2 separate regions of the Homo sapiens genome follow, and region 2 is linked to region 1. The links come from fine-mapping of genetic effects on gene expression. Tissue or cell type: fibroblasts. Region 1 holds a variant in brackets; the other region holds the start of a gene. All regions are shown on one strand. Distances are from middle to middle.

Region 1 (15,546 bases):
CAAAACAGAGCAGTGCCTTCTAGGAGGACAAGACAGGAAAAATAATGGCAGTTACTGACTGCATCTATTTAGGTTGCCCTTAGTTAATAGAGTTTTGTATTACTAGTATTTGTTTTTAACTCTGTAAAGTAGACACTCTTTTTTATTTTTAACTATTTTTCATAGTGCTTAGCAAAGTCTGGGCACATCTGCATGTGGCTTGTTCATTGGTCACTGTGTTTATCATTGCGCTTTGAGTTTGCTGCTGTGTGCTCTCCCCAGTGGCTGCTTTGGTGCATTAGACTCGGGGATGCCGATGCACAGACCTTGCGACCATATATTTTCACTAAATGTCCACGTGGATCTATCAAGACTTTTATTGCTCTTGGGTACTTGTGAGTTTGCTACCACACTGGTGAATTTTTGTTTGAGATTCTGATTGTTAGTTGCTGTCTGAAGTCCTGTGTGAGATTCATGAATCTTACATAATGAGGTTAGTTTAGACATGACAAAGTCTTTGATCACTTCAGGTCAGGGCAGGGAGTTCATGCCTTTCCTCACTTGGGGTTCACTGCAGCCTCTGTTTCTTCAGAAGCTGAGGAATCACAGCTTTGCTCATGTTACTGAGAGTACGGGAGGGTAGTCAGAAGGAGGGTGACCTGCAGGCTGCTGTGAGAAAATGGAATAGACTCCCTACATTTTTGCAAAAGGGGTTATTTTAGTTCTTGAGCTATTTATTGGTGCTAAGAAAAGAATCGACACTATAACTGGTTCTTTCTCATAAGGAAAAGAAATCTGTTGTTTAGTTTAATGATTTAGCACTATTTATGGACCTTAATGTACCCCATTTATAAGGGATAAGAAAGGGAAAAAACTGATAAAATTGGATCTTGGAATGTTTTCATGATCTTCGAGTGCTGTCCTATTTAGTGGGTTATCTCCTGGAAAAAATTAGATTTAGATTGCCTGTTTTTAAAAATATTGCTGGATTTTAACAGAAGTTGTTTAAATGCTTCATTTGTTCATTTCTAGAGCATGTTCTGAGAGGAATCAGCTGAGCCTTATTTCTTTTTAACATGCCAATGAAAGGCATTAATTACTCTCCAGTTTCTGTGTAGTTTATTTAGTGTGTTGGCCATATTGGTATATCACCGGAATTATTATTTATTTGATCTTCCTATTTAAATCAAGTCACCTGAAAAATACATTAATTTTAAAAAGAAACTTAACATCACCATGGTAAGTGGGAAACCTATATAAATTGTCATAAGTAGAATGTAACAATAAAAATAAAACAATGCTGTTAAATTGTAGCTGGATCCCATGGCATATAATGGCAAGCCATGGCTTTCTTTTCCAGTCAAAAAGGGAGGCTGCTACAAGTGTTAATGAGAATTTAAAGCAGTAAACTTTCTTTTGATCTAACCAGAAGAAGCAAAAGAGAATTAGAAATCACTTTATGATTCTTGCCACCCGGTTTCATGCTACAGTGCTGCTCTTCACTTTGGGAACTCCACTTGAAATATCAGTGATTGGAGAAGTCCCCTGAAACCACTACCCCTGGGTAGTTACCACTTGCTCAGACATTTCTGTGTATGAATGTTAACAAGATTACCGTACCCCAGAGAAGCTGTCTGTAAAGAGCATTTATATTTAAGGTACACTTTTTTCATAGCTACTAAAGATTTTCATTCTGCTATCCATAGGACGTACTTTATTTATTTACTTACTTACTTATTTTTTTGAGACGGAGTCCTGCTCTGTCGTCCAGGCTGGAGTGCAGCGGCGTGATCTCGGCTCACTGCAACCTCCGCCTCCCAGGTTCAAGCAATTCTCCGGTCTCAGCCTCCGGAGTAGCTGCTACTGCATTAAGAACTAAAATTGACCAGTATTAACCGCAGTCTACTGTCTATGCCTTCCCTTGGAAACCACAAGCCTTTATTAGACTCCAGAGTCCCAAAATAGTTCCATCAGTCAGATTCTGCCAGTGCAACTGCTGTCCAGGCAGGAAGGCAAATGCTTCCTATCTGCCACCTTCCCAGAATCCTCGTAAAGTTGATTGAAGTGTAGATACTATGAATGTGTACTATCATATTTCATCAATTCTAAGATCCATTAACTTTAAGATACACCATTTTGTGTACAAATAAGAGCTAACTACCAATTAAATTATGACATATCAGTAACTATAAGATGTATCTAGCTGTCAGAGATGTCAAAATTTGCAAAATTACGTATCTTAAAATCAGTAAAATATGGTAGTAGAAGAAAATATTCAAGCTATTCTTCACTAATCAAAACTATACCTTCTGGAAGAATTCAAGGCCAGGACTGTAAAAGCAGATTAAATGAACAAATACTAGGCAATTATTCAGTAATAACTAAGTTTTCATATACTTTTTAACTTGTTTCTACAATGGTACATAAAATTATTTAGGTTAGCACACCCCACCATGCACGACTAATTTTTGTATTTTTCGTAGGGACAGGGTTTCACCTTATTGGTCAGGCTGGTCTTGAACTCCTGACCTCAGGTGATCCACCCGCCTGGCCTCCCAAAATGCTGAGATTATAGGCGTGAACCACTGCACCTGGCCAGGACATACTTTAAATTCTTAAAAATTGTAACCATTTCTCATTTGTCACAAGATCTAAGAGAATGCTATACAGTGTAATGAAGTTCTGAATTTTCTTTCAGATGTTTACAGGTTTTTCTTTTATGCCTTTAATATGTTATTAAAGTTTAAATGTAAAAAGGTGGGGGTTTTTTTGGTGCTACCCATCCCCCTTCTCCAGCCACTAGGAAGAAAGCTGTGTGTGTGTTCCTGGAGTGGCTTACACACAGCTTGTAGCATCCAGGGTGGGCAAAAATAAGCCTGTTTTCCAAATACTGGGTATTTGTGCTCTGATCACTGATTGCTGCTTCTAATCATAGAGGTGAAAAGAGATGGCAGCCATTGTTGTTATAGCTCCCCTCATTGCAAAAATGGGTAAAGGCATTTAATAGACACTTCTTCAAAGATATTAAAATGGCCAATAAGCACATCAAAAGATGCTCAGCATCACTAATCATTAGGGAAATGCAAATCAAATCTATAACACGATACCACCTCATGCCTCTTAGGATGACAATTATCAAAGAAACAAAACAACAACTGTGGGCGAGAATGTGGAGAAATGGGAACCCTTTTGCAGTGTTGGTGGGAATGTAAAATTGTACAATCGTTGTGGAAAATGGTGTGGTGTTTCCTCAAATAGTTAAAAATATAATGATCATATGATCTGGCAATTTCACTTCTGGGTATATACTCAAAAGGACTGAAAGCAGGGTCTCAGAGATACTTGTATATCCATGTTTTTAGCAGCATTATTCACAATAACTGAGATGTGGAAGCAACCAAAGTGTCCATCAGTAGATGAATGGATAAGCAAAATGTGGCATATACATACAGTGGATATCATTCAGTCTTAAAAAGGAAGGACATTCTGGCACATGCTGCAGTGTAGATGAACCTTGAGGACATTATGCTGTGTGAAACAAACCAATCACAAGAAAACAAACACTGTGTGATTCCACTTATCTGAGATACTTAGGGTAGTGAAAATCACAGATACAGAACGTAGAATGGTGGTTGTCAGCACTTGGCGGGGAGGGTGGAATTGGGAGTTGTTTAACGGATATAGAGTTTCGGTTTTGCCCTGTGAAAAGTGTTCTGAAAGTGGATGGTGGTGGTGATTGTACCATATAAATGTACTTAATACCACTGAACTATACTGTTAAAAATTGTTCAGATAGTAAATGTTATGTATATTTTACCACAATAATAATTTTGGGGGAAAACTATTGAGGCCATTCATAAATACTGTGTTTGTATATGTCCTGGCAACAAATTTATTCCATTCCATACAAATGTCTCATTATGTGTTGTGCTGTGATTTAGCTGGCTATATTAGTTTGCTAATGATGCTGTAACACAAACTGGATGGCTTAAACAACAGAAATGTATTCTAGTTCTAGAGGCTGGAAATCTGAAATCCAGGTGTTGATAGGATTGGTTCCTTTTGAAGGCTGTGAGGGAGAGAGTATTTTATGCCTCTCCCCTAGCTTCTGTTAGCCACAGGCCTTCCTTGGCTTGTAGATGACGTTCTCCCTGTGTCTTCATGCATCTTCCCTCTCTACACGTCTGTCTCTGTGTCCAAGTTTCCCCTTTGTGTAAGGACACCAGTCATATTGGATTAGTGTTCAACTTAATGACCTCATGATCACTGTTTGCACATAAGGTCACATTCACAAGTACTGGGACTTCCAACATCTTTTGGGAGGATACGATGAAATCTGTAACACTGGCCGATAATTTTATAAACATTTATGTTATTTCCAGTTTTTCTGTGTTTAAGTTAGCCTTGTGGGGCATATTCTTGTATATATATCCTTTGTGTTTTTGTGATTAGAAGTAGATTTGCGAGGTCAGAGGATACACACAATTTTGCTGTACATTATGAAAGTAACCTCCAGAAAGTATATGCCCATTTATAGTCCCACTGTCAATGTACAAGTACGCACCCGTTTTCGACACAGTAAATAACACATTGGTTTTTAAAATCTTTTGAGTCTTTGTCAGTCTTTTTTATTGTTTTTGTTTGTTTGAGATAGGGTTTCACCCTGTCACCCAGGCTGGAGTGCAATGGCACAGTAATGGCTCACTGCAGCCACTACCTCCCAGGCACAAGTGATCCTCCCACCTCAACCTCCCAAGTAGCTGGGACCACAGGCACGTGCCATCACACCCAGCTAATTTTTTTATTTTTATTTTTTTGTAAAAATGAGGTCTCACTATGTTGCCCAGACTTCTGTTTGTTTATTGCAGTAAAAACAGTGAAAATTTACCATCTTAACCAGTTCCAAGTGTACAGTTCAGTGGTGTTAAGTATGTTCACGTATTTGAATATAGATTCACAGATGGCCAGAACTCTTCTCAGCTTGCAGATCTGAAACTCTATCCCTATTAAATAACTCTCCATTCTCCCCTCCCCACAGCTCTAGGCAGTCACCATTCTACTTTCTGTGTCTATGAATTTGACTACTCTAAATACTTCATATATGTAGAACCATACAGTATTTGTCTTTTTGGGACTGGCTTATTTCACTTAGCATAAGTGTCCTCAAGGGTTATCCACATTGCAGTATGTGATAGGATTTCCTTTATTTTTAAGACTGAATAATATTCTATTGTATGTGTTTATGCTACATTTTGTATTTATTAGAGAGGATTTGGAAAGATTAGAAAAAGATAAGAATGTAGGAGAGGTACTTTGGAACCAAAAGCTTGGGGGTTTCATTCTCTCCATCTCAGATAGTGCTTTTTTTGAGACCCAGTTTCATTCTTGTTGCCCGGGCTGGAGTGCAATGGTGCAGTCTTGGCTCACTGCAGCCTCCGCCTCTCGGGTTCAAAGATTCTCCTGCCTCACCCTCCCGAGTAGCTGGGATTACAGGCATGTGCCACCACACCCAGCTAATTTTGTATTTTTAGTAGAGACGGGGTTTCACCCTGTCAGCCAAACTGGTCTCGAACTCCTGACCTCAGGTGATCCACCCGCCTCGGCCTCCCAAAGTGCTGGAATTACAGGCGTGAGCCACCGCACCCAGCCTCAGATAGTGCTTATGCCTACTATAGCTGAGCTTATTTGTTTTGTTTATTTTCTGAGTTTTCTATTAATATTACGTCTCTGTTCCTCAGAATGGTTTTCCTTTGCCTTCCCAGCAATACCTTCCAACTGTTAGACTGGTCTTCTTGTGAAAGACTGTCTTCTAGGATTTCCGGGGATTGATGTATCTTTTCAAGGTGGAAATAGAACAGTCGCCTTGAAAGAATTTCCGTTAGGGAACCCGGATAGTTGGCATTTTGCATGTTTTGTTATTTTGTTGTGCAGTAGGTGCTCTCTGTGTTTGTGGAGTATACCACATAGTTTTGTTACCACTCTAGTGCATCGAGGCAGATAGGATCAGATTGAGAGATGTGTGCTACTCCTCGGGTAAAATGAGGTATTTACTGGAGCCAGTTAACTTCTATCACAAAATGCCCAGCCTTGGAGTTACACTTTTTGTATGCTTTATTCTTGGGAGCTGTGCTTAATTCACATAACAAAGCAACTTAATTAAAATTAGCCTGTAGAATTCCATAATCGTGATGATTGTGATGAGAAGTATTTCACGTGCTTTGTTTGAATTATTGCATTTAATCCTCACAGCAACCCTGTGAGGTAAGTTCTATTATCCTGATTTTACAGATGAACAAACCGAGGCTGCTAGAAGTTGGTAGCGCCAGGGTTTGAAGCAGGCGAACTCCAGAGCCTCTCTCCTGCCTCTCGTGCTCTGCTCCTTCAGTAGCTGGAGGTGCCATTGCATGTTGCAGGCCAGGAGTCACAGTATACACAGACTGTCTTTTCTGTATAATGAGCAAAAGTGCCAATCATTTTTAAATTCTTGGACTCTTTAGGAAAAAGACGTCTACCTGGTGGAGCACCGTGGCAGGTTGCCTCAGCGTGGGAAGTCCCATGTACTTCCGTTCAGGTGCTCAGGAATTTGGAGAGCCAGGATGGTGGAAACTTGTTCATAACAAGCCCCCAACGATGAAACCTGAAGGAGAGAAGTTGTCTGCCTCTACTTTGAAAATAAAAGGTACTGTTGTGAGAACAGTACAAAAGTTGCTAGTCAGACCAGAGCCAAGCAGGTGTGAGCCCAGGAGACGCTCCTGCTTCCACTGGGCATGGCTCGCAGGCCTCTCTGGAGCTACTCTGTTTAACACTTCTGTGATGACACTTGTGTGTGTGCTAGAAATAAATGCCACATAAAAACATTTTATCACTTCCTAATCAAGCTATCAGTTTTATAAATTTCCCAGGGTATCTGAAAGGTTCAATGTTTTCCATCTGGTTTTTGTTTTTAAACTTCTCACAAAGGTGAAGAGATATTTTAAAATTCCCGTAATAAATAACATGATGAATTCCCATGTACCTTCCACCTCACTTTGACATTAACTCCTGACAGTCTCATTTTATCTAAATCCTCAGTACTTTTCCCCAACCTTCCCCATTCTTACAATTGGATTATTTAGAAACAAATCCCAGGAATCAACATTTCATTCCTAAATATCTTAGT[A/T]TGTATCTCTAAGAGATCAGGATTCTTTCCTTTTTGCAGCCTGACCATAATGCCATTTTCATATTTAAAAAGATGTTAACAGTGACTTCTTACTATCACATATTGATCTGGTTTTATAATCTAAAAAGCTTTTAATGAGCTTTTAAATTTTTATATTTATTTGTTTGCTTGTTTGTTTATTTATTTGAGGTACAGTCTCGCTTTGTTGCCCAGGCTGGAGTGCAGTGGTGCAATCTTTGCTCACTGCAACCTCTGCCTCCTAGGTTCAAATGATTCTCGTGCCTCAGCCTCCCAAATAACATGCCACCATGCCCAGCTAATATTTTTGTATTTTTATTACAGACGGGGTTTTGCCATGTTGGCCAGGCTGATCTCGAACTCCTGACCTCAGGCGATCCACCTGCCTTGGCCTCACAAAGTGCTGGGATTACAGGGTGAGCCACCGGATCAGGCTGATGAGCTTTTAAAATTTTAAAAATATGATTGGGAAGAAAATCAAATAGTACTTAAGGGTGTAAAGTATGAAAGTTCCCCCACCTGCCTATGGCCTGCAATTTCACTTCCCAGAGTAACCACTGTTGTCTTTTGTGAATACTTTCAGAAAGATCTCTGCAGATTTAAGCATTTTCTTAGTTTTTTAAAAAAGTAAAATGGACTCGTACTATTATGAGTTTTCCATTTTTGCCACACTTACCAGTATGTCTTGGACATCTTTCCATGACAGTACATGTAGATTTACCCTATTTTATTTCATTACATCCATTATATAATTATGTGATAATTTGTTAAACCATTCTCCTGTTGATGGACATTTTGGTTGTTTCTACCTTTTTGTTGCTATTTTATTTATTTATTTTTTAATTAAAACATTTTTAAAAAGTAATAGAGATAGGGTCTCGCCATGTTTCCTGGGCTGGTCTTGAACTGTTGGGCTCAAGTGATCCTCCAGCCTCTCCTTCCAAAAGTGCTGGGATTACAGGCATGAGCCATCATGCCTGACCTTTTGTTACTTTAAACAGTGCTACAATTCTACAAATTTGTGTACATGTGAAAATGTGATAAATTCCTGGAGTTTCTACATCAAAGGGCATATTCATTCAAAATTTTAATCAGGATTGCCAAATTATCCTCCAAGAAACTGTAATAAGGCCGGGCATGGTGGCTCATGCCTGTAATCCCAGTACTTTGGGAGGCCGAGACAGGTGGATCATCTGAGGTCAGGAGTTCGAGACCAGCCTGGCCAACATGATGAAACCCCATCTGTACAAAAATACAAAAATCAGCCGGGCGTGATGGCGCATGCCTGTAATCCCAGCTTCTCTGGAGGCTGAGGCAGGAGAATTGCTTGAACCCGGGAGGCGGAGGTTGCAGTGAGCCGAGATCACACCACTAACATTCCAGCCTGGGTGACAGAGCAAGACCCTGTCTCAAAAAAAAAAAAAAGTACCCATTGAAATGCCCATGAAAATGCCCATTTCCCCATACATTTACTGAGCTTTATCAAACTTTTTTTTTGGCTCACTGCAGCCACCACCTCCCAGGCTCAAAATCCACCCACCTCAGCCTCCCAAAGTTCTGGGATTAAGAGGCGTGCACCACCACGCCTGGCTAAACTTTTAATGTTTGCCAGTTCCAGTAGGTGAAAGATAGTATTTATTTGTTTAAATTTGCAGTATAACTTCTTTTTTCTCAAGAGATATCTAAGTCTTTTTTAGTTTAGGGCATTCATTGAACATTTCTCTTTATTGAACATGATATTACTCATAATAATAAATTAGCAAAAGAAACTAAAGTTGAGTAGTTATTTTAAAATTTAGATATGGGTTGAGCAATCCAAATCTGAAAATCCAAAATCAAAAACACTCCAAAATCTGAAACTTTTTCAGCACTGACATAACGCTCAAAGGAAATGCTCATTTGCAGCATTTCGGATTTTGTATTTCTGGGTTTGGGATACTCAGCCAATAAGTAAAATGCAAATATTCCAAAAGCCGAAAACATCTGAAATCCAAAACATGCTTGTGCCCAAGCATTTCAGATGAGGGATACTCAGCCTGTATTTATTCTTTCTTAGCAGCCTCAAAACCAACTTTAGATCCCATCATTACTGTTGAGGGACTTAGAAAACGAGCAAGTCGGAATCCTGTGGAATCTGCCATGGAATTAAAAGAGAAAAGGTCTCGAACTCAGGAAGCAAAAGACATTAGAAGAGCCCAGAAGGAGGCCGCTGGCTTTCTTGACAGGAGCACATCTTCTACCCCTGTAAAATTCATAAGCCGAGGCCGCAGGCCAGATGTGATTCTGGAAAAAGGCGAAGTGATTGACTTTTCCTCCTTGAGCTCCTCTGACCGCACCCCGCTGACAAGCCCATCTCCTTCTCCTTCTCTGGATTTCTCTGCCCCTGGTACACCTGCCTCTCATTCTGCCACACCTAGCTTGCTTTCAGAAGCAGATCTGATTCCAGATGTGATGCCCCCACAAGCCTTGTTTCATGGTAAGAGTTTGTTTGCTTTGCTCTTTTATTTTGGGTATGGGCCATGGTATAAATGTACAAGTTTTCACCCCGTGGGCTGTGTGCTCTGCATTTCTTCCTTCCTATGTCTTGATGACACTGTTTTGTACTCTGCACAGATGACGATGAGATGGAAGGCGATGGAGTCATAGACCCAGGGATGGAGTACGTCCCACCCCCTGCTGGGTCAGTAGCTTCTGGGCCAGTGGTTGGGGTCAGAAAGAAGGTCAGAGGCCCTGAACAGATAAAGCAGGAGGTAGAGAGTGAGGAGGAAAAACCCGACAGGATGGATATTGACAGTGAAGACACAGATTCAAACACATCTTTGCAAACAAGGGCTAGAGAAAAGAGGAAGCCTCAGCTGGAGAAGGACACAAAGCCGAAAGAGCCCAGGTATACTCCCGTGAGCATCTACGAGGAAAAGCTGCTGCTCAAGAGGCTGGAAGCTTGTCCCGGTGCTGTTGCCATGACTCCGGAAGCTCGGAGACTGAAACGCAAACTGATTGTCAGACAAGCGAAAAGGGATAGGGGATTACCACTTTTTGACTTGGATCAAGTTGTTAATGCTGCTCTTTTGTTAGTTGACGGGATTTATGGAGCCAAAGAAGGAGGAATTTCCAGACTTCCAGCTGGACAAGCCACGTACAGAACCACCTGTCAGGACTTCAGAATCCTTGACCGATACCAGGTGAATGCAAGCACTTGCTGTAAAGCCCTTGGGGGCAGGAGTGGAGGTGGGGCAGGCAGCACTAGGCATTGGACATGGTTATGCTGTGACCTTTTAAATCCTGAGTAATTTGGGAAGAGAAAAGTAAAGTGCAAGGGAAAAAAATACAAAAATCGCTGGGCTTTATTTTTCAGAATTGTTCATTGTAAGTACACCTGAATACATCTGAGTTTTTCTTTTCCTTTAGGCATTCAAACATAACCTATAAGTTTTCTTCATCTGTCTCTCTTGTCTCTCTCTCTCTGAGGATAGATATGCATGGTTTGTGTCGTAGCTTTGACAAATTTGTTGAGGCCATGACGGTGTCTCTGACACTGTGTTGCAGAGGATCTGAAGGTGTGTAGACATCTGCGAAGGACAACATGAAGAAATAGCAGCCAAGGGATCAGTGTGGTATCAGTGTTGCTCAAAGGATGGTCGGTGGAACCCAAATTTTGTGGATGCTTCTGGGAACAATTAATTCCACTTAGAACTACCTGTATATACTCTCCCACTGGGAGGAACAAGAGGCCTTATTCCCTTTATCTTTGCTAGCACTTGACACTAACCAGCCTTTAAGTTTTGCTAATTGGCTGGCTGTAAAGTGAAATCTTGTTTTTTATTTATATTTCTTTGGTTACAGGTGAGGTTAAATTTCCTGGTTGTTTCTTTGTGAATTGCCTGTTTGGAGTCTGCATGTTTTTCTCTCTTCTCTGGAAGCTAGTGGGATCTGCTCTTCATTGCTGGTGTTCTGGTATTATTCAGTGATGTGCCGTATGTAGGGCTTATGTCTTTCCTTGTGCTGGACATGTGGTGTGTGGGCCCTTTCAATTTGAAACTTTCTTTCCTGAGTATGGAAAAGTCTTGATTTCCTATCTTCTATTTTTTCTGTTCTCTCATTTTAGAACTCCCCATTATTTGGATATTGGACCCTGTAGATTAAAAGTTGGCAAACTTTATCTGTAAAGAAATAAGTATTTCTGCCAGATAGTAATTATTTTAGGCTTTGCCGGCCACAAAATCTCATTCGGAACTCTTCAACTCTGCTGTTGTGATTGGAGAGCCGTAGTGAATGAGTGTGGCTGTGTTCCAGTAAAACTTTATCTACTAAAATGGGCAGTGGACTGGATTTAGCCTGGGGGCTATAGTTTACCAAGATCCCTACTCCAGATAGATCCTCTTTTCTTTTTTTTCCTAATTCCCATCTTTCCTGGGAAGCACAGTATTAACTGGCCTGCCTACCAGGAGCCAAGTCGGGAGGGCCCAGGAGCCCATCGTTTAGGAGGTAAACTGACTCTCCCTGTCTTCAGTACAGTACTCCCACCCTTGGCTTCCTGTGTCCAGAATCTCCCTCTTGAGCCTCTCCAGTCTTCTGCCCGTGGAGGGAAAGATCATTTCCTAGATGTGGGCAGTATAATTACTATAGGGGTATAATTGGAGCCTTTAACCTCTTAAAGAGCCTCACAATCCATAGTCATACCCCCCAGGCTCTAAGCCTGATGCCTTAGGTGACTACACTTCCCTGAGGCTGTGTTTTGTAAATCACCCTGCTTAGCTTCACCACTGGCTTAGGTATTGGCTTTCTTTGGTCTGTTAAGTCATTTGCTGCTTGTTCATATGCTTTTGTTAGTCATCTATTCACTTGTTCTTGTTCTTTTTTTTTTTTTTTTTGAGACATGGTCTCTCTCTGTCACGCAGGTTGGAATGTAGTGGCACAACCACAGCTCATTGCAGCCCCGAACTCTCAGGCTCAAGCAATTCTCCCACCTCAGCTTCCCAAGTAGCTGGTACTATAGGCACACACTACCACACTCAGCTAATTTTTTTTTTAATTTTTATTTTTAGTAGAGACAGGGTCCTACTATCTTGCCCAGACTGATCTCAAACTCCTGGGCTCGAGTGATCGCCTCAGCCTCCCAAAGTGCTGGGATTACAGGCATGAGCCATTGCGCCTGGCCAATATTCACCTGTTCTTTGTTCTTATTCTTGTGGGCCTGTCTGTTTACTGCCTATACTTAATTTTTTAAATTGTAAGATGTGTCATACAGATAGAAGGCAGCATAGAAATATGGTATAATTTAGATATTAGTAAAATAAATGCCCATGTATTCATCTCCTGGATAAAGAGTGTTGTAAACACCTTAGAAGTCTCCTGTGTACTTTCTGTTCCCCTCAGAGGAAGCCACTTTGACTTACAGTGTTAATTATTCTTTTGCTTTTTAAATGTGTATGTCTCTAAATGATATACTTTTCGTTTAAAAAAATACTGAGTAGCAAGCATAAATCTAGCTGTGTAAGTAAATTGCCACTATTAGATGAAGTTTCCTGGAGAAGATAAGCTAAATAGTCATTCTGGGTCATTGTTGTGGACTGAATTGTGTCCCCCTTAAGCATATGTTGAAGTCCCAACCCTGGTACCTATGAATGCAGCCTTATCTGGAAATAGGCCCTTTGCAAATATAATTAGCCAAGACCACCAAGGATTGCCGGCAGCACCAGGAGCTAAGAGAAGGGCACAGAACAAATTCTCCCCTAGTGCGTACCCCAGAGAGCATAGCCCTGCCCACACTGTGACTTCTGACATTTGGCCTCTAGAACTGTGAGACAATAAATTCCTGTTGTTTTAAGCCACCCAGTTTGTGGTGCTTTGTTCCTACAGCCCTGGGAAACTAATACTTACAGTGATGTTCTGGCTTCGGCTTCCATGAACCCCTTCTGAGGTAGTCACTGGCCAAGGTCACTAGGGAGTCCTGGGAAACATGAGGCTCACCATAGCGTATGCATCAGCCAGGGCTGTGATGTATACCAGAGATGCGGCAGAAATCTGGGCAGAGGAAGTGGGATCCTCTGTATTTCCTGCCTGAGCTGACAGCTTCCTTCCAGCTTGCAGAAGGTCAAAGCAGTTATTTGTGGAGTGAGCATCATCAGCTGGTCTTTGGGGTGGGCATGGGTGGTGTACAGGAGGCTCACCTGTACATGGTGAAGACAAGCTGAGCGTAGATAAGATTCTGGGCCACGACGCCATAGGTTTAAAAGATGGTCAGTGGCAGCAAGGACTTAAGGATGATAGCCTCAATATGTGTTAGAAATACCAAAATTGTTAGAAATAGATAATCGGTGCTGCGAAGAAAAGTCAGCACAGAGACAAAAGGTATCTCAGCAAGGCCATCTTTTCTTTCTGTAGAAAGGGTGCTCAGTTGCAGATGGAACAAAGGTGAGAGCACACTTGAACACAGGAAAAGCAGACATATTTATCCCTTACGCACTTGGGTCGTCCTTACTGCTGTGTCCTGCATCCACTGGCTGGAGCGGGACCTCACAATCTTAAACTGATACCCGATTTGCTAATAGCCTAAAACTTTCCTAAATAGGTAAGTGCAGGGAAGAACAAAGAAGTTGCTTACAAAAGGTTTAAGGAAGCAATAACATTTCCAAATAAGGAAGGGGCGTAGACTGTGGGCTGGAACGTGCCTGTGAGCATGTCCAACGGTTACAGAGGATAGGGCTTAACAAAGAGTTATTAGCACAAGGCAAGGAGACTTGAAGAAAGTTAGTCTTTAAAAGAAACTGTTATTTCTAACACTTATGATTTATTCTTTAACAAGAAGGAAAACTTTGAAGAGGAAACTTTTTACTTTCTACACTATGTCTGCCCCTTGGGTCACACTTGTTCACCCTTTGTTGTGAAACTCAGCAGGGGTGTTGGGATCTCCCCTCTCTGGAGATTCTTTTGCCCTCCTCTGTATTTGATCTCCTGTTTCCTGTGGCCCATCTTTACCTTGTTATAGGTTTATTCCCTTGTTCTTAATGACTTCCTGAGAAAAGCTGCATGGGAAGTAAAATTTGAGACCAACATACTGAAAAGACCCTCATTAAGTGAGGTTGAACCTGGAATTCCATACACAGCCACATTGTCTAGGTGAGACCTCTGTTGAGGACCACTGCACTTCCTTTAGGTTTTTTCTTTGAATCTAGTCAGAGTCCCTGGGGAATAATCTTCTGGGCTCAGGATGCTGGTTGCCAAGTTGGGGAAGAGGGACCTTAGCATTCAGCTTGTCAGGTACTCACACCTCAGCCCTCCAGCTGGATCCCCTGTTAGTTCTCTAGAGATCAGACCTCCTGGCTTCTGGGGGAGGGCAGCCACCCAGCAACAGGGAGTGGAAGGATCTGGGGATCATACTGCTTTCCACATGGTGTTTGCCTGCTCCTTATTTTATTGTCCCATTTGGTCCCAGTTCCAGAGGAATCTGCTGGCTGCTGCCTGGATTTTAGCGGGTTCTGTAGTATAGATTGGGTTAGTTCTCATTTAGCTTACCCAAAGCCACTTTGGGATTTTGGTGTTAAATCAGTTACTATTTGTCCATCTGTTTACCAGTTACTGTTCTAATTAAGTCAGCTTCTATAGTTTTAGTGGGATTTTGGGAAGTAGTAAAGCTTTATATGCTTGTGTTTTAACCCAGTCTTAACTTGGAATTTTAGTATAAATTTTAATGTATTTACACAGGGAGTGGCTGTAAATGCATTTATTCAATCCATACTCTTGTTTTATATTTATTCTTTGAATGTATTCGTAGCTATAAGTTTCTCAATAAGTGCTGCTTTAGCTGTGATTCTTGACTTTTGAAATGATGTGATTTTATTTCCAATCAGTACTTGGCATTTTGTTATTTTTCTCATTATTTCCTCTTTAATCCAAAGGTTATTTAGTTGTTTTTTGGTTTTCAGATATATGAGAATTTTAAGCTATGTTTTGGTAATTGATGTGATTTCTAATGTTGTATTATGATCAGAGAAAATAGTTTATGTGATGTTCATTCTGTACCATAAAGAAAGTTATACATTCTATTTTTATTCTTTTTATAGGTCCTAACTTAAGATACATTTATTTTTCCTTATTCTTTTTTTAATATCATGTGGTTGTCCCCCCAAACAAAAAAGTACATTTTCATGCACTTATCTCTTTTTTTCTTTTGTATTGCTTATTTAAATGACATAAATCTTTACTAAATTATTCACTCGTCCTATTGTTTCTTTCTAGATTAATTTCTTGCTGGACTGCTTTCTCTAACAGTTCTTTAAAAATATGGGCTTTTTGAGGTTAATTTTGAAAACTTATACGACTAAGAATATCTTCATTTCACTTTTTCATTTAAATGATAGCAGTCATATAAAATTGTTATTTTAGTTTTT
Region 2 (15,546 bases), 25 kb before region 1:
AAGGATGGAAAACCAAACACCACATGTTCTCTTGTAGGTGGGAATTGAGCAATGAGAACACTTGGACAGGGTGGGGAACATCACACAGTGGGGCCTGTCGTGGGGTGGGGGTACTGGGGAGGGATGGCATTAGGAGATATACCTAATGTAAATGACGAGTTAAGGGGTGCAGCACACCAACATGGCACATGTGTACATTTGTAACAAACCTGCCTGTTGTGCACATGTACCCTAGAACTTAAAGTAAAATTTAAAAAAAGAAAAAAAAAACAATAATTTCTTCAGTATGACACCAAAAGCACAGACAATAAAAGGAAAAAACAAATAAATTGGACTTTATCAAAATTAAAACCTTTTGTATACATAAGGATTCTATCAGTAGAGTGAAAATGCAACCTATGGTATGGGAAAAAATATTTGCAAGTCATATGTCTGATAAGAGGTTAATATCCAGAATATATAAAGAATGCCTACAACTTAACAACAAAAAATCAAGCAATTCAATTTAAAAAACAAAAGGCTGGGTGTGGTGGCTCACACCTGTAATCCCAGGACTTTGGGAGGCCGAGGTGGGCAGATCACCTGAGGTCGGGAGTTTGAGACCAGCCTGACCAACATGGAGAAACCCCGTCTCTACTAAAAACACAAAATTAGCTGGGTGTGGTGGCACATGCCTGTAATCCCAGCTACTTGGGAGGCTGAGGCAGGAGAATCACTTGAACCCCAGGAGACGGAGGTTGCAGTGAGCCAAGATTGTGCCATTGCACTCCAGCCTGGGCAACAACAACAAAACTCCGCCTCAAAACAAAAAGCAAAAGACTCAAACTTTCTGTAACTAAGATATATGAATAGCCAATAAGCAAATGAAAAGATGTTCAATATCCACTAACCATTAGGGAAATGCAAATAAAAACCTCAATGTGATACCATTTCACACTTGTTGGGATAACTACTATTAGACAAACAAGAAGATGAAAGAAAAAGAAAATAGCGTTGGCAAGTGTATTAGTCTGTTCTTGCACTGCTATAAATAAATACCTGAGACTGGGTAATTTATGAAGAAAAGAGGTTTAATTGACTCATGGTTCTGCGGGCTGTACAGGAAGCATAGCAGCATCTGCTTCTGGGGAGGCCTCAGGAAACTCACAATCATGACAGAAGGTGAAGGGGAAGCAAGCATGTCTTTCATGGCTGGAGCAGGAGGAAGAGAGGAAGTGGGGTGGTGCTACACACTTTTAAACAACCAGATCTCATGAGAACTTACTCACTATACAGTACCAAGTGGGGATGGTGCTGAGCCATTGATGAGAACTCCACCCCAATAATCCAGTCACCTCCCACCAAGCCCCACCTCCAACACTGGGGATTACAATTAGACATGAGATTTGGGCAGGGACACAGACCTAAACCATATCAGCAAGGATATCTAGAAATTAGAACCCTTGTGCCTTGCTGGTGGGAATGTAAAATGATACACCCTCTGTGGAAAACAGGAGGGCAGTTCCTTAAAAAGTTAGATATGGAATTTCCTTATGATCTAGCAATTCCACTCCCGGGTTTACATCCCAATGAACCCATAGGGGAAAAAAAGTTGACAATATCATATATTGAAAATGAGTTTTTGACTTTTTTTTTCTTTTGAGACAGAGTCTCACTCTGTCGCCCAGGCTGGAGTGCAGTGGTGTTATCTGGGCTCACTGTAACCTCCACCTCCCGGGTTCAAGCGATTCTCCTGCCTCAGGCTCCTAAGTAGCTGGAATTACAACTGTGTGCCACCATGCCCGGCTAATTTTTGTATTTTTAATAGAGACAGGGCTTCACCATGTTGGCCAGGCTGGTCTCAAACCCCTGACCTCAAGTGATCTGCCCGCCTCTGGCTCCCAAAGTTCTGGGATTGCAGGCATGAGCCACTGCGCCCGGAATTTGTTTTGTCTTTCTGAGATGGAGTCACCCAGGCTGAAGTGCAGTGGTGCGATCTCAGCTCACTGCAACCTCCACCTCCCAGGTTCCAGGGATTCTCCTACCTCAGCCTCCCGGGTAGCTGGGATTACAGGCACGCTCCATCATGCCTGGCTACTTTTTGTATTTTTAATAGAGACGGGGTTTCACCATGTTGGCCAGGCTGGTCTCGAACTCCTGACCTCAGGTGATCTGCCTGCCTCAGCCTCCCAAAGTGTTAGAATTATAGGCATGAGCCACCATGCCTGGCCAGAGTTTTTGACTTTTGGTATTTTCAACTTATGATGGATTTATCTGGACACAACCCCATCATAAGTTGAGAAGCATACTGAATGTCTATCACTTCCGCACCATTGTAAAGTGGAAAAATCATAAGTCAAGCCATCATAACTCTGGAATTGTCTGTATATCTGAAAAAATTGAAAGCAAGGATCAGAATCTGGCACACCAACATTCACAGCAGCATTATTCACAATTGCCAAAAGGTAGAAACATCTCAAATGTCCATCAGCAGATGAATGGATGAACAAAATGTTGTATATACATACAATGGAATATTATTAAGCCTTAAAGAGGAAGGAAGTTCTGACATGTGCTACAACATAAATGAACCTCAAAGGCATTATTGCTAAGTGAAATAAGTCACACACAAAAGGACAAATATTGCATAATTCCACTTATACGAGGCATCTAACATAGGCAAATTCACAGAGGCAGAAAGTAGAATAGCGCTTACCAGGGGCTAGAGGGAGGGGAAATAGGGAGTTACGTTTTAATGGACACAGTTTCTGTTTGGATAGATGAAAAAGTTATGGAGATGAATAGTGATGCTGGTTGCACAACAGTGCAGGTGTACTTAATGCCCCTGAGTTGTACGCTTAAACGTGGTTTACCTAGTAAATTTTATGCTATGTGTATTTTACACAACTTTAAAAAGATGAACTATGAGTTAAAAGCATTGGGTAAATAAGTAGAATTTCAAAAAAGCATTTAAAAAATTGTTTCCAAGTGTACTTTTCCAGAGTAGACTAGATACCATTGAAGTAAGAGAGACCCATCGATTAGAAAAGAGATAGGAAGGCAAATGAAATTAAAATGACCAGAGTTTAAAAAGGATTAGACAGAAAGTAATAAATGTGACAGGCAGGCACAGGAGATCCAATAGGCACATAATTCATGTCCCTGAAGGAGAAATTTGAATAGAACAGAAAATGTATTTACAGATGTAATTTAAAAAATTTTCCAGAGTTAAAAGTATGAATCTAAAAATTGAATGGGTACCTCGTGTCCAAGGAAAATAGACTCAAAAATATATTCTTGTAAAGTTATTGGACTTCAAAGATAAAGAAAGTATGCTTTAAGCAACTATGCAAAGTAATTAACTAAAAGGAGAAAATTAGACCGGCCTCCAAGTTGCCACAGCTATATTTGATATTTGAGGACAGATGGGTAAAGTCTATATAGTCTTCATGCAAAGAAAGTGTGACCCAAGAAATTTTTACTCAGCTGAACTGTACTTCAGGGACAAAGACAACACAAACATGTTTTTTTAATGTGCAAGAATTCAGGAAATATAGTTTCTACAACACTTTTTAAAAGATTCTAATAGAGGGTAGATGGAGAAAAGACACAGAAAGGACTGGTGATGACCATCAAATCCATTTAAAGATGCAACTAAGATGAAAACAAGCATGGCAATTATGGTTAAAGAACAAAATGTAGGCCAGGCGTGGTGGCTCACGCCTGTAATCCCAGCACTTTGGGAGGCTGAGGCAGGTGGATCACATGAGGTCAGGAGTTCGAGACCAGCCTGGCCAAAATGGAGAAAGCCCATCTCTACTAAAAATACAAAAATTAGCTGGGCATGGTGACAAGCCTGTAATCCCAGCTACTTGGGAGGCTGAGGCAGGAGAATCACTTGAATCTGGGAGATGGAGGTTGCAGTAAGTTGAGATTGAGCCACTGCACTCCAGCCTGGGTGACAGAGTGAGACCATGTCTCAGAAAAAAAAAAAAAGAGCAAAATATATATGTTATAAACTCTGACAGTGAAGGAGTGATATAACCAACAAAAGTTGAATGAGAAAGAGCAGAAGATAGGAAATAGGTCAAGTATGCTGGTGATATAGTTTGGCTCTGTGTCCCCACCCAAATATCATGTTGAATTGTAGTCCCCATTGTTGGAGGTGGAGCCTCATGAGGGGTAATTTGATCATGGGGGTGGTTTCTAATGGTTTAGCACCATCCTCCAAGTGCTGCCTCATAGTAGAGTTCTCACAAGATCTGGTTGTTTGAAAGTGTGTAACACCTCCCCTTTCTCTCTCTCTCTCTCCCTCTGCTGCCAGCCACGTGAAGATGTACTTGCTTCTCCTTCACCTCCTGCCATGATTGTAAGTTTCCTGAGGCCTCCCCAAGCATGCTTCCTGTACAGCCTGTGGAACTGTAAGTCAGTTAAACCTCTTTTCTTTATAAACTACCCAGGCTCAGGTAGTTCTTTATAGCAATGTCAAAACAAACTAATACAGCTGGTTTCCTGAATGTTTAGAGCTGGTGACCAGAATATATTATTTAAAGATGGTAAATCAAGCACAGAGGTCTAAATATATTTAAAGGCATAAAGGTAAAGCTTAAAAACAATCTAATCCCTAAGTTGGGCGGTATGAAGAGAGGATATATGCTGATTCCATCATGTTTATGGAAAGGAGTGAAAAAGGCCGGGCACGGTGGTTCGCACATGTAATCCATGCACTTTGGGAGGCTGAGGCAGGTGGATCACTTGAGGTCAGGAGTTCAAGACCAGCCTGGCCAACATGGTGAAACCCTCTATCTGCTAAAAATACAAAAATTAGCCGGGCTTGGTGGCATGCACCTGCACTTCCAGCTACTCGGGAGGTTGAGGTGGGATAATCACTTGAATCCAGGAGGCAGAAGTTGCAGTGAGCCAAGATCGTGCCACTGCACTCCAGCCTGGATGAGTGAGATCCTGTCTCAAAAAAGAAAGAAAAGAAAAGAAGGAAGGAAAGGAAAGAAAGGAAAGAAAGAAAGGAGTTAAAAAAATACTCTCAGGAAGATCCTAGGAAAAAGTGCAAACCATGACAAGAGCATCTAACTGTATTGCAAACATATGAAACGATATCACTGAAGGGGTGGAGGGCAAAGGTGCTGATTTGGTAACTTTGGAGTAAATGAGGTCTATAAAGCCAAAAGCAATAGGAACTGCAAAAAAGCATGGTACTCTAGTAGGTAAAGTTGTTTCCCACAAAAAAAAAATGACATATAATTATGAGGTAAACAATTCTGAAACTGCTATACATGTACACTGGAATCAAACAATTGCGCAAGTGGATGGTGGAAAATGGGAGCCTGAATTCTCACTGATGGAGTAGGAATTTACCAATAAAAAAAGGAGGTTAGAATAATCCATCTGGTAATGGACTAGAGTTGCAGACATCAGCAATATCTCACATTTTAGTCAATATAGATTCAGGTGATTACATATAGAAATATTTGCAGATATGTAACATACACAGATAAGTATACACACATATATTTATGTGCTTTGTCAGCTGAGAGGGCCCAAAAGAAACAAAGCCCCAGTAGCAATAAGCATGCCAGGACCTATATCTTGGATTCCAATATTATTCTACAATAAAAAGAACCTTGGATTCTTGGAGAAATGGCAGATTCTGAGACTTGGGCAGGAAATATACAAGATTAGCTCAGAATATTGTGCAGTGTCAGAAAATAGACAAGTGCTAAACAAGAAAAACACACATTGATGAGGGTCCGTCAGAGAAGCAGAGGAGCTGAAAGATCTCCCAACGGCCAAAGCGGGAGCCATCTGAGCAACAAAATAAAGTAATATTGGATTATAACCCAAAGTATAAAATAAATACCCACCAGTCCACACTGATAGAAACAAATGATTGAATCAGTTACTAAATGGGAGAGAAGAGACAAACCTGTGCAGAATTTCAGATTACTTATATAGATACTGCATTGAATTCATGGTGATTAATTCCAGTACCAGAAGAAAAACTGGCTGTTTTGGAGTTCCTGAGAAAATATCTATTTTCTTCAACATGTCACCTTCCTAAAATGTTTTCAAGGGTAGTTTTAACTGTTTTTGACTTTTTCCTTATGTGCTGACTTCAGAGCCTCAGCCTGAAGAAGGTGGGATTTCGTGGCCTTGTCTGCCTATAGAGCCCACTACAGGGCCATACACAAGGCAAGCCTTCTTGCTTGCATTTAAAATAGTCATAATGGTGCTTTATGCGGTGCCATGTGGTGTGATGTTTCTGTAATCATTTAGTGCTGAGACTGATAAATTTATCAGTCACTGGTGCCAGTTCAGCTGACACCCTCCACCTTCTTCCCAAACAAACCTCCTCCTTCCCACCTCCTCCTTCTCTCTCAGCCCCAATGATGACAAGCTTCTGATCATTGCCTGAAGCCTCTGCCTTGACCTATTGCATTCATGCCCACCATCAAGCCCAGTTTAAACCCGTGCCTCCTACTGATACCTCCTGCTAGGGTACTAGTGATTTACTATTCTTTAAGACAGAAGTGACCCGAAACCCAGCTCTCCCAGGATAGCTGCCAGGACCTGGCCATGATTCAAGCCCAAATAACATAAGCCAAATTACACACTCAGTGAGGAAGGCATTTTTTTCAAGTCCCCACCCTTGTGTGAGTGAAGGTGGAACAAAGATTGTGTGACCATGTTGTTCAAACACAGGAAAATGACTGCATTCCCTCCCCTTAGTTTTCATTTGTTGATTCTTCTCCAAGCCCTGACTTCCAACTGTACTTCTTTTTTGATGCTGCCTCTTGCTTAGAGGATTCTGAAGGGAAGGACAGGGTAGTATGCTGTTCTAAAGAGTATGGGACTTTATCCTGTAGGCATGGGGAGCCACTGAGCGGTTTTTAAGGTGGTCAGCTTCCTATTTTTGTCTTTGGAGGTAAGTTCACTCTGAAGGCCAGCCAATGGCAGGGCAAGGCACCCACTGTCCTCTCCAGGAAAGCAGTGGCCATTCTGGGCACACCTAAGTCAATCCAAAGCTGAGAGGGGCAGGAACTGATGTGATCTTAGGATGCCGAGACACTAGAATATAGCCAGATACACAAGGTTCAGATGTTCTGGCCTTACAAGCAAATTGTATTAAATCAGCCATGCTTCCTAAGCTTCGTCCCACCTTGGTAAACATAAAAAATAAGGATATCTGTACAACTCACTGGGATCAACTTGCGTGAGCTTGGATAATTCTAAAAGGAGCTTCATGGATAATAATTATTTACATTTCCTTTATATGGTACTCTTATAAAAAAGAAAAAGAAAAACAAAAAAATAAATGACATATAATTATGAGAAGAAAAATAAAAGCAAATCTTGGGGTAGATTTAAATATCAACTTTGGGTAAAATTTCCTGATAACATTCTTCTTGGAGTCTCTTTTAAATATCAAGTTTTGTGTTAAAAATAGTTCCTGATCATTGCTCCTGCACATAGTTCTTGATCAAGATTTTTTTTTTTTTTTTTTTTTTTTGAGATGGAGTCTCACTCTGTCACCCAGGCTGGAGTGCAGTGGTTTGATCTCGGCTCACTGCAACCTCCACCTCCCGGGCTCAAGTGATTCTCTTGCCTCAGTCTCCCAAGTAGCTGGGATTACAGGCACCCACCACCACACCTGGCTAATTTTTGTATTTTTAGTAGAGACGGGGTTTCATCATGTTGGCCAGGCTGGTCTCGAATCCCTGACCTCAAGTGATCCACCCTCCTTGGCCTCCCAAAGTGCTAGGATTAAAGGTGTGAGCCACCACGCCTGGCTGATCAAAATCTTTTTAAATGATCATCTCTTTAATTTTTGATAGTTACCATGGAGAAAAAACTTTTTTTTTTTTTTTTTTGAGTTGAAGTCTCACTCTGTCACCGAGGCTGGAGTGCAGTGGCTCACTGCAACCTCTGCCTCTCGGGTTCAAGCAATTCTCCTGCCTCAGCCTCCCAAGTAGCTGGGATTACAGGCATGCGCTGCCACATTTGGCGAATTTTTGTATTTTCAGTAGAGACGGGGTTTCACCATATTGGCCAGGCTGTTCTCGAACTCCTGACCTCAAGTGATCCACCTGCCTTGGCCTCCCAAAGTGCCTGGAATACAGGCATGAACCACCGTTCCCAGCCAAAAAGCTATTTGATACAAGAAGTGATGATAAAATGTAAAGCCATCGGCTATGAACCAATGGGAAAAAAAAGAAAAAAACACACAATAAAAAATCAAAAGGAAATAAAGACAATAAAAGAAACAAAAAAGAGCCATTTTTTTTCTGTTCGTATAGTTATGTAAGATTTTGTATAGAAGTGTATCATGCATGTATGTGTGACCACACAGCCTTGGTGTGCCACTGGACCAATTTTCACAAACACCCAGTACCAGCACCCAGTACTAGAGTTCTAGATCAGCCTAGCCAACATGGTGAAACCCCATCTCTACTAAAAATACAAAAATTAGTGCAGCCTGGTGGCTCAGGCCTGTAACCCCAACTACTCCAGAGGCTGAGATACAAGAATCGCTTGAATCTGGGAGGCAAAGGTTGCAGTGAGATCACCCCACAGCACTCCAGCCTGGGCGACGGAGTGAGACCCTGTCTCAATTAAAAAGAAGAAAAGAAAAGAAAAAGAAAAAAATAGTTGCTTCTCAGTTTGATGATATGCAGTCACTCTCACAAATCAGTAATTTATGCGACAATAATCACGGAAAATATACTGCTTAGGCTTATAAATATTTAAACAGATAAACATACTTTTTTTTTTTTGCAAGACCTCCCTCAGTCCCCCAACCCACTTTTTTATTTGACACAGTTAATAATAAATGATTTCTTAAAAGTAGAATACTTTTTTTTTTGCTTCTAGTATCCTGAAAATAAAGAAAAGAGTACATTTCAAGAAAACAAGTTGAAAAATTAGTCACAATAAAATGAAAGGCGATTGATCTAATTCCCTGATGTACACTCTAAGGACATACAGCTCTGTTGAAGGCTCACTGATTTACAGGGGAAAATATCTAGGATATACCACGAATAAAAAGAAGTCTAATATAATTTTTAAAGAGAAATATGCAAATACACCCTGAACTGAATTTCTTCTCAAAGTTCATTACAGCAAGAACTCCATTTTCCAATTCAGTGGTACATTCTCTCTAGGCTGCAAAAAATGCTGTGGACAAAATGACATTTGGAAAAGGTATCTTTAAAGATACCTTTAAGAGCAATAGTCCCCTTATGCCATTTACGCTCACATAAGAGACTGGAATAGCAAAGCACTATGAACAGTAATGAATGTTGTAAAACTCCCTGGTGAGGCTTAATCAATACTGCCTATAGCCGTGTCCACCGGAAGAAGCTCGTTCTCTGTGAATTCTAGTGGGAAAGAATGATTGAATGATGAACACGTTTTCACTGGTTGCTCTATCAGATACTTAAAAGTTTCTGGGAGGCCTTGCCTTTTTTACCCGAGGAAGAAGTGAAAATGCGTCTTGCACAATTGCTTAACTATTCCCAACGCAAGACTTCTTTATATCATTTATTTCCCTTGTATTACTGGCGCGGAAACTTGGGTGTAAAAGTGATCACAAAGATTACATGGGGCCAGGCGCGGTGGCTCACGCCTGTAATCCTCTCGGGAGGCTGAGGCAGGAGAATCGCTTGAATCCGGTAAGGTTGCAGTGAGCCGAGATCGCGCCACTGCACTCCAGCCTGGGCGATAGACAGAGACTCTGTATCAAAATTATAATAATAATAATAATAATAATCCGAGCCTGACCAGTCGCCCCACAGCGTCAAGGTGAAACCAGGTGACCGCGACTACAGCGTTTAATAATGGGTCCTCAGGCAAAAACTCCACGGATGGGAACCCCGCGCCTCTGAAGCTGCCTAACGAGGCGGTCTCCTGGTGGCGCCTGCCCCGCCAAAGGAGCAATGAGGGGGCTGCGTTTAGGCGAAGCCGGTATTGGGCGAAGCTTCTGGATCAGTCAGGGGCTCAGAAGGGACGTCTGTGGGAGAGGGGTCAGCACGGTATCCAGACCCCGCCCGGGGTGAGGTTGGTACTGAACTGACTGAGGGGCATGGAACCCCCACCCTCCACCCTGGTAAGGTGCCGGGGCCAGTTTGGGCCGGGACTCCTAGAATTTGAATCGGGGGTGGTCTAACGCTGTCGCCTGCGGGGTGTGCAGGAGGCCCCTAGTGAAGCCAAGAGTTCGTAGAGCCTGGGCGCCGCTCTATGCTCGGCTCTCGATTGCTCACGCCTGGCAGCGGCGAGCGGCGCACGCGACGGCTGGGGCTCTGCGCTCGAGGGGTCGAGCCTGGGCAGTACAGGCGGCGGTGCGCACTCTGCGGCGGCCTCTGCGCCTCGGGCGGGCGGGAGAGAGAGGCCGCGGCCGCCAGCGTGGGGATGTCTAGGAGCTCGAAGGTGGTGCTGGGCCTCTCGGTGCTGCTGACGGCGGCCACAGTGGCCGGCGTACATGTGAAGCAGCAGTGGGACCAGCAGGTCGGTGTCACGTGACCGTCTCTTCCGGGCCCGCGCGCGCGGCGTCGACCTGGGGCCTCTCGTGGTCTCTGCCCGCTCGGTTCCTCAGCTCCTCTTCGTGTCTTTCCCCCGCGGTGGCGCGGCCCTGCACCCCACGCGTTTGCGGCTGCGGCCGGCGGCCGCTCTGCTGGGCTCCGGGCGCTGCAGCTCCCGGCGGGCGTGTGCAGCCCGCAGATTCAGGACGACCCGGCTGCCCGGCTTAGCGCCTTTGGAGCTCCGCGCTGAAGGGGCCTTGCTCCGCACAGGCACGGCACGCAAGCTTTTGGGGTGCCCAGTGGCTCTGTTTTCAAGTCACAGCCGGCCCGCAGGGTGCGGACCTTTCCACATCTCACTTGGGCCGCTAGAAAATAGAAGGTGGGGAAGGAGTTTCTTGGGGTGCATTCTGCAAGCTACCAGCCTCCCTCCTGGCCCAAGGTTGGGGTTAAAGCCTAATGTGTTTTACGTGCTATTGATTTTATCCCATGGTAAGGGAGCCCCCCTTCCCCGTACTCACTCTCCATGCCTTTGACCAAGATAATTTGGTGAGATGTTTGCACTTCTCGTTTAAATGAACAGTTTGCTATGGAAACTAGAATCTGGGAACGATAGAGATAACAGTCTCCAGATTTTTTTTTTTGGTACTTTTATTTCAGGAAATATCCGTGACCTGCTGATCAGCAGTGACTATTCTGTCCTCTCAGTTCATATTTTCTTTCTTATTCAAGTTGACAGACCTTTAATGGGTGATTACTGTGTGGAAGCTACCTCACTAAGCACCTTGGGAATACAAAGATAAGGAAACTCCACTCTTCCAGAGTCTATCAGTGATTCACGACCTTGCTGAGAACAGGGTCATTGGTGAATTTTCAGAAAACAACTTGGCAGTGATTGGGGTTGAACCTAGTTCACCAAGGGTGAAAATAATGGACTGGATGAATCAAGAGTAAACAGTCTTTTCTTGATTTGCCTACCCAGACCTTTGGACTGTGCTATGTGCTTGATATACAGAGATGAAGTGGATGAGGTCTTTGTTCTTGGTGTTCACAGACTGTGGAAATTAGAAGAGAGGAAGCATGTGATGGTACAAGAATTTTGACGAGGGGTTGAGATGACTTAACAATGAAAGGGCACAGGAGAGATCAGAGATTTGGGATTAAAATGTGCTCCTAAGGGGCTGGCTTTTGGAATAGAGGCAGAAGACTTCCGCCTCTTACAAGGAAAAGTAAAAGATGTTGATCCTGGGAAAACTTGAGATGGAGTAAAATTTAGTATGACAGATGATCTGACGTCAGTGAAGTGATGTTTGAAGGGTTTGGGTAGGGATGGATTAGAGCTTGGCTTTGGACCCTAACTGAACATCAAATGTTCCCGGAAAGTTTTTACAATGTGACTAAGGCTTGGTCCCCACCCCAGACCATTTAAACCAGAATCTCCTGGGGATGGGGACCTGGTTCAACAATGTTTTAAAAGTAACCCAGAGAATTTTAACACAGGACTAAGCACCATTGTGTTACAGAGTGGAAAAGTGGTTATTTGGAAGTTAGAGCTGAAGAACCAAAATAACGTGTGTGTGTGTGTGTGTGTGTGTGTGTGTGTGTGTGTGTGTTTATTTTTTTTCCTTTTATGTCCGGTTCTTCATTAGGGGCTTACATTGTATTAATAGCAGTGGGAAAGACTAGGACAAATGATTAGCACAGTGGATGTGTCGGAAGGTTCAAGGAAGCAAGAAATTAAATAATGAATATTGATTCCTGACCGTCTACCACATACCAGGCAGTGTATTAAGCACTTTATGTATATCATCTGTAATCCTCACAGTAACCTAGCAAAAATTAAGCAGTGCTACATGAGGAGCCAGAGTTCTAGGTGTTAGGGTTGGAAGAATAAAGAGGTCTTTAGTGATTAGTAAGGAAAGTTGTTAGAAAGGTAGTTCAGTGAGGGTCACAGGAAGGATGTGTGAGGCAATCAGCATAGACCTTGAAACCTAGAGGAAGATAGCAAATGATGGGATGGAGAGCCAGATCATAAGCACACGTGACATCTCTGAGAAGGAAGGGTAGGATCTGGGAGGCAGGTGTGGAAGGAATGATTCTGGTGAATGGTGTGGGCTTGGGAGGGTGGGTATCGGTGTGTCATGGTGTAAGAAGCACAGGACAGGAAGACCTGCAGTTGGGGGAGTGGAATAAGCACCTCCGTTTTTGTCTCAGTGGTGATCTTGCCAAGGGTGCATGGTTCAAGACAGTTGTGTTTCAGTTGAGTTATATCAATCCCGGGACTCCTTCAAATCCCTCATAATGAAGCTGTAGGCCTGGAGGAGGTCCAGCAAGTAGGTATTATATTAGGTGAGTTTTTAAAAATAGGTAAAATAATTTGGAAAAAACCCCACAAACATACGCAGGCCCTGGGCCCCACTCCCATTAATTCTACTCTATATAGCCACTATTAAAAACCATTTATTGGCCAGGCACGGTAGCTCATGCCTGTAATCCCAGCACTTTGGGAGGCTGAGGCAGGCAGATCATTTGAGGTCAGGAGTTCGAGACCAGCCTGGCCAACGTGGTGAAACCCCGTCTCTACTAAAAATACAAAAAAATTAGCCAGGCCTGGTGGCGCACGCCTGTAATCTCAGCTACTGGGGAGGCTGAGGCACAAGAATCGCTTTAACTCAGAAGGTGGAGATTGCAGTGAGCTAAGATCGTGCCATGGAGCCAAGATCTCCAGCCTGGGTGACAGAACGAGACTCCTTCTCAAAAAAAAAAAAAAAAAACCAATAAAACAAAACAAAAAAAACCCTATTTATTTATTTTGAGATGGGGCTTGTTCTGTCACCCAGGTGGGAGTGAAGTGGCACAATCTTAGCTCACTGCAGCCTGTGCCTCCCAGGCTGAGGTGATCCTATCACCTCAGCCTCCGGAGTAGCTGGGAACACAGGCACACACCACCACTCCCTGCAATTTTTTTTTTTTTTTTTTTTTTTATTTTTATTTTTGCTAGAGATGGGATTTTGCCATGTTGCCCAGGCTGGTCTAGAACTTCTGAGCTCAAGCAGTCTGCCTGCCTTGGCCTAAGATTACAGGAGTGCTGGGATTACAGGAGTGAGCCACCACGCCTGGCCTAAAACCTTTAGAGTATTTTGTGAGCAATAAACTATAAAATGTTAGTTATTAGTAATGACTGATGTTTTTAAAAGTCTCTTCTTGGGTGCCAGGTCCACGTTCTGAAGTGCTGTGGTTTTTTAGTGCTTACTAAGGTAACTACCATTGATGAGCATTTATTTTTTCCGCTGGTAGTAGCATCCTTCTTTTTCTTCTTTCTCTGTTATATAATTAATTAATAATTCTGCATGATTTTTACATTGTTAACTTTACATGCTAGAAGCCAAGTTGAGATTTTAGTAATCTGCATTTTTTCTGTTGGTGTTTATTGTTCAGCTAGGATAAGTGCTAACAGAAGAGTAGTTTAGAGTGTTACTGTAGTAACTCGCCAAGTTTTTAAAGCATTACATATCAATTAAACTTTAAAAATTTAACATTGGCCGGGTGCAGTGGCTCACGCCTGTAATCCGGCACTTTGGGAGGCTGAGGCAGGTGGATTACTTGAGATCAGGAGTTCGAGACCAGCTTGGCTGACGTGGTGAAACCCCGTCTCTACTAAAAATACAAAAATTAGCTGGGCATGGTGATGCACGCCTGTAGTCTCAGCTACTCGGGAGGCTGAGGCCGGAGAATCACTTGAACCCAGGAGGTGGAGGTTGCGGTGAGCTGCGGAGTGCAGCCACTGCACTCCAGCCTGGGCGACAGAGCGAGACTCTTGTCTCAAAAAATAAATAAAAAAAAATTTAACATAGTGCCAGTTTTTTTTTTCTGTTATTTCCCATTAAATTTTCTGTACTAAATGTTCAGGAATTTCTTAAAATATGATAAGAAATCATTTCAGTAATAACATTTAGCACACTACCAAATTTATTTGATCGTTTATTACATTTTACATTTGTACAGAAAATTAAAATAGTAACTGGGTATTTGGAATCTGAAAGTTTTAAGTATATTTTGGTAACACTGTTATTTGGATTTGAATGGCACAAGGATGGGGACCACCTGTTCGGGATGTTACTGAAATCTGTTTCTTACGTTTTTAGAGGCTTCGTGACGGAGTTATCAGAGACATTGAGAGGCAAATTCGGAAAAAAGAAAACATTCGTCTTTTGGGAGAACAGATTATTTTGACTGAGCAACTTGAAGCAGAAAGAGAGAAGATGTTATTGGCAAAAGGATCTCAAAAATCATGACTTGAATGTGAAATATCTGTTGGACAGACAACACGAGTTTGTGTGTGTGTGTTGATGGAGAGTAGCTTAGTAGTATCTTCATCTTTTTTTTTGGTCACTGTCCTTTTAAACTTGATCAAATAAAGGACAGTGGGTCATATAAGTTACTGCTTTCAGGGTCCCTTATATCTGAATAAAGGAGTGTGGGCAGACACTTTTTGGAAGAGTCTGTCTGGGTGATCCTGGTAGAAGCCCCATTAGGGTCACTGTCCAGTGCTTAGGGTTGTTACTGAGAAGCACTGCCGAGCTTGTGAGAAGGAAGGGATGGATAGTAGCATCCACCTGAGTAGTCTGATCAGTCGGCATGATGACGAAGCCACGAGAACATCGACCTCAGAAGGACTGGAGGAAGGTGAAGTGGAGGGAGAGACGCTCCTGATCGTCGAATCCGAGGATCAGGCATCAGTGGACTTATCGCACGACCAGAGTGGGGATTCCCTCAACAGTGATGAAGGAGACGTGTCTTGGATGGAGGAGCAGCTGTCCTACTTCTGTGACAAGTGCCAAAAATGGATACCAGCCAGTAAGGAGCTTCTCAATTCCTTTGATTTGTCAATTCCTGTGTGAAGGTTTGTTTTTCCAACCTGTGAAAGAAACGTGAATGTAAAAGAGACCTAAATAAAAGGATAATTATATTTATTCTCTAGTTGATCAGCTATAAATTTATATAAAACATAGGCATGTTTGTACTAATGAAACGTACT

Which allele goes with the higher level. Positions count from the first base shown, and alleles are read on the strand shown. Sizes are in standard deviations (SD) of each study's normalised expression.
In carriers of allele A in region 1, the expression in fibroblasts of the gene that starts at base 10,309 in region 2 tends to be lower than with T alone (small effect, 0.19 SD a copy in GTEx).

Evidence for each region.
Region 2: it holds the start of KAT14, and the variant in region 1 is fine-mapped to the expression of KAT14 in fibroblasts (GTEx, PIP 0.99). The same link has a PIP of 0.9 or more in esophagus muscle.

What each region holds. Positions count from the first base shown.
Region 1 is chr20:18,152,608-18,168,153 of GRCh38, forward strand. KAT14 (lysine acetyltransferase 14) reads left to right here. Exons shown (of 11, transcript NM_001392073.1): 5 at 6,477-6,658; 6 at 9,216-9,632; 7 at 9,770-10,338. Among named protein-coding and RNA genes, the nearest start is that of PET117, 23 kb to the left of the region's middle. The variant A/T (reference allele first, on the strand shown) is at 7,139.
Region 2 is chr20:18,127,555-18,143,100 of GRCh38, forward strand. It overlaps KAT14 (lysine acetyltransferase 14), which reads left to right and starts at 10,309. Exons shown (of 11, transcript NM_001392073.1): 1 at 10,309-10,497; 2 at 14,654-15,365. The coding sequence starts at 15,107. It overlaps PET117 (PET117 cytochrome c oxidase chaperone), which reads left to right and starts at 10,309. Exons shown (of 2, transcript NM_001164811.2): 1 at 10,309-10,497; 2 at 14,654-15,546. The coding sequence starts at 10,402. The coding sequence ends at 14,803. RefSeq lists a silencer at 10,678-10,797.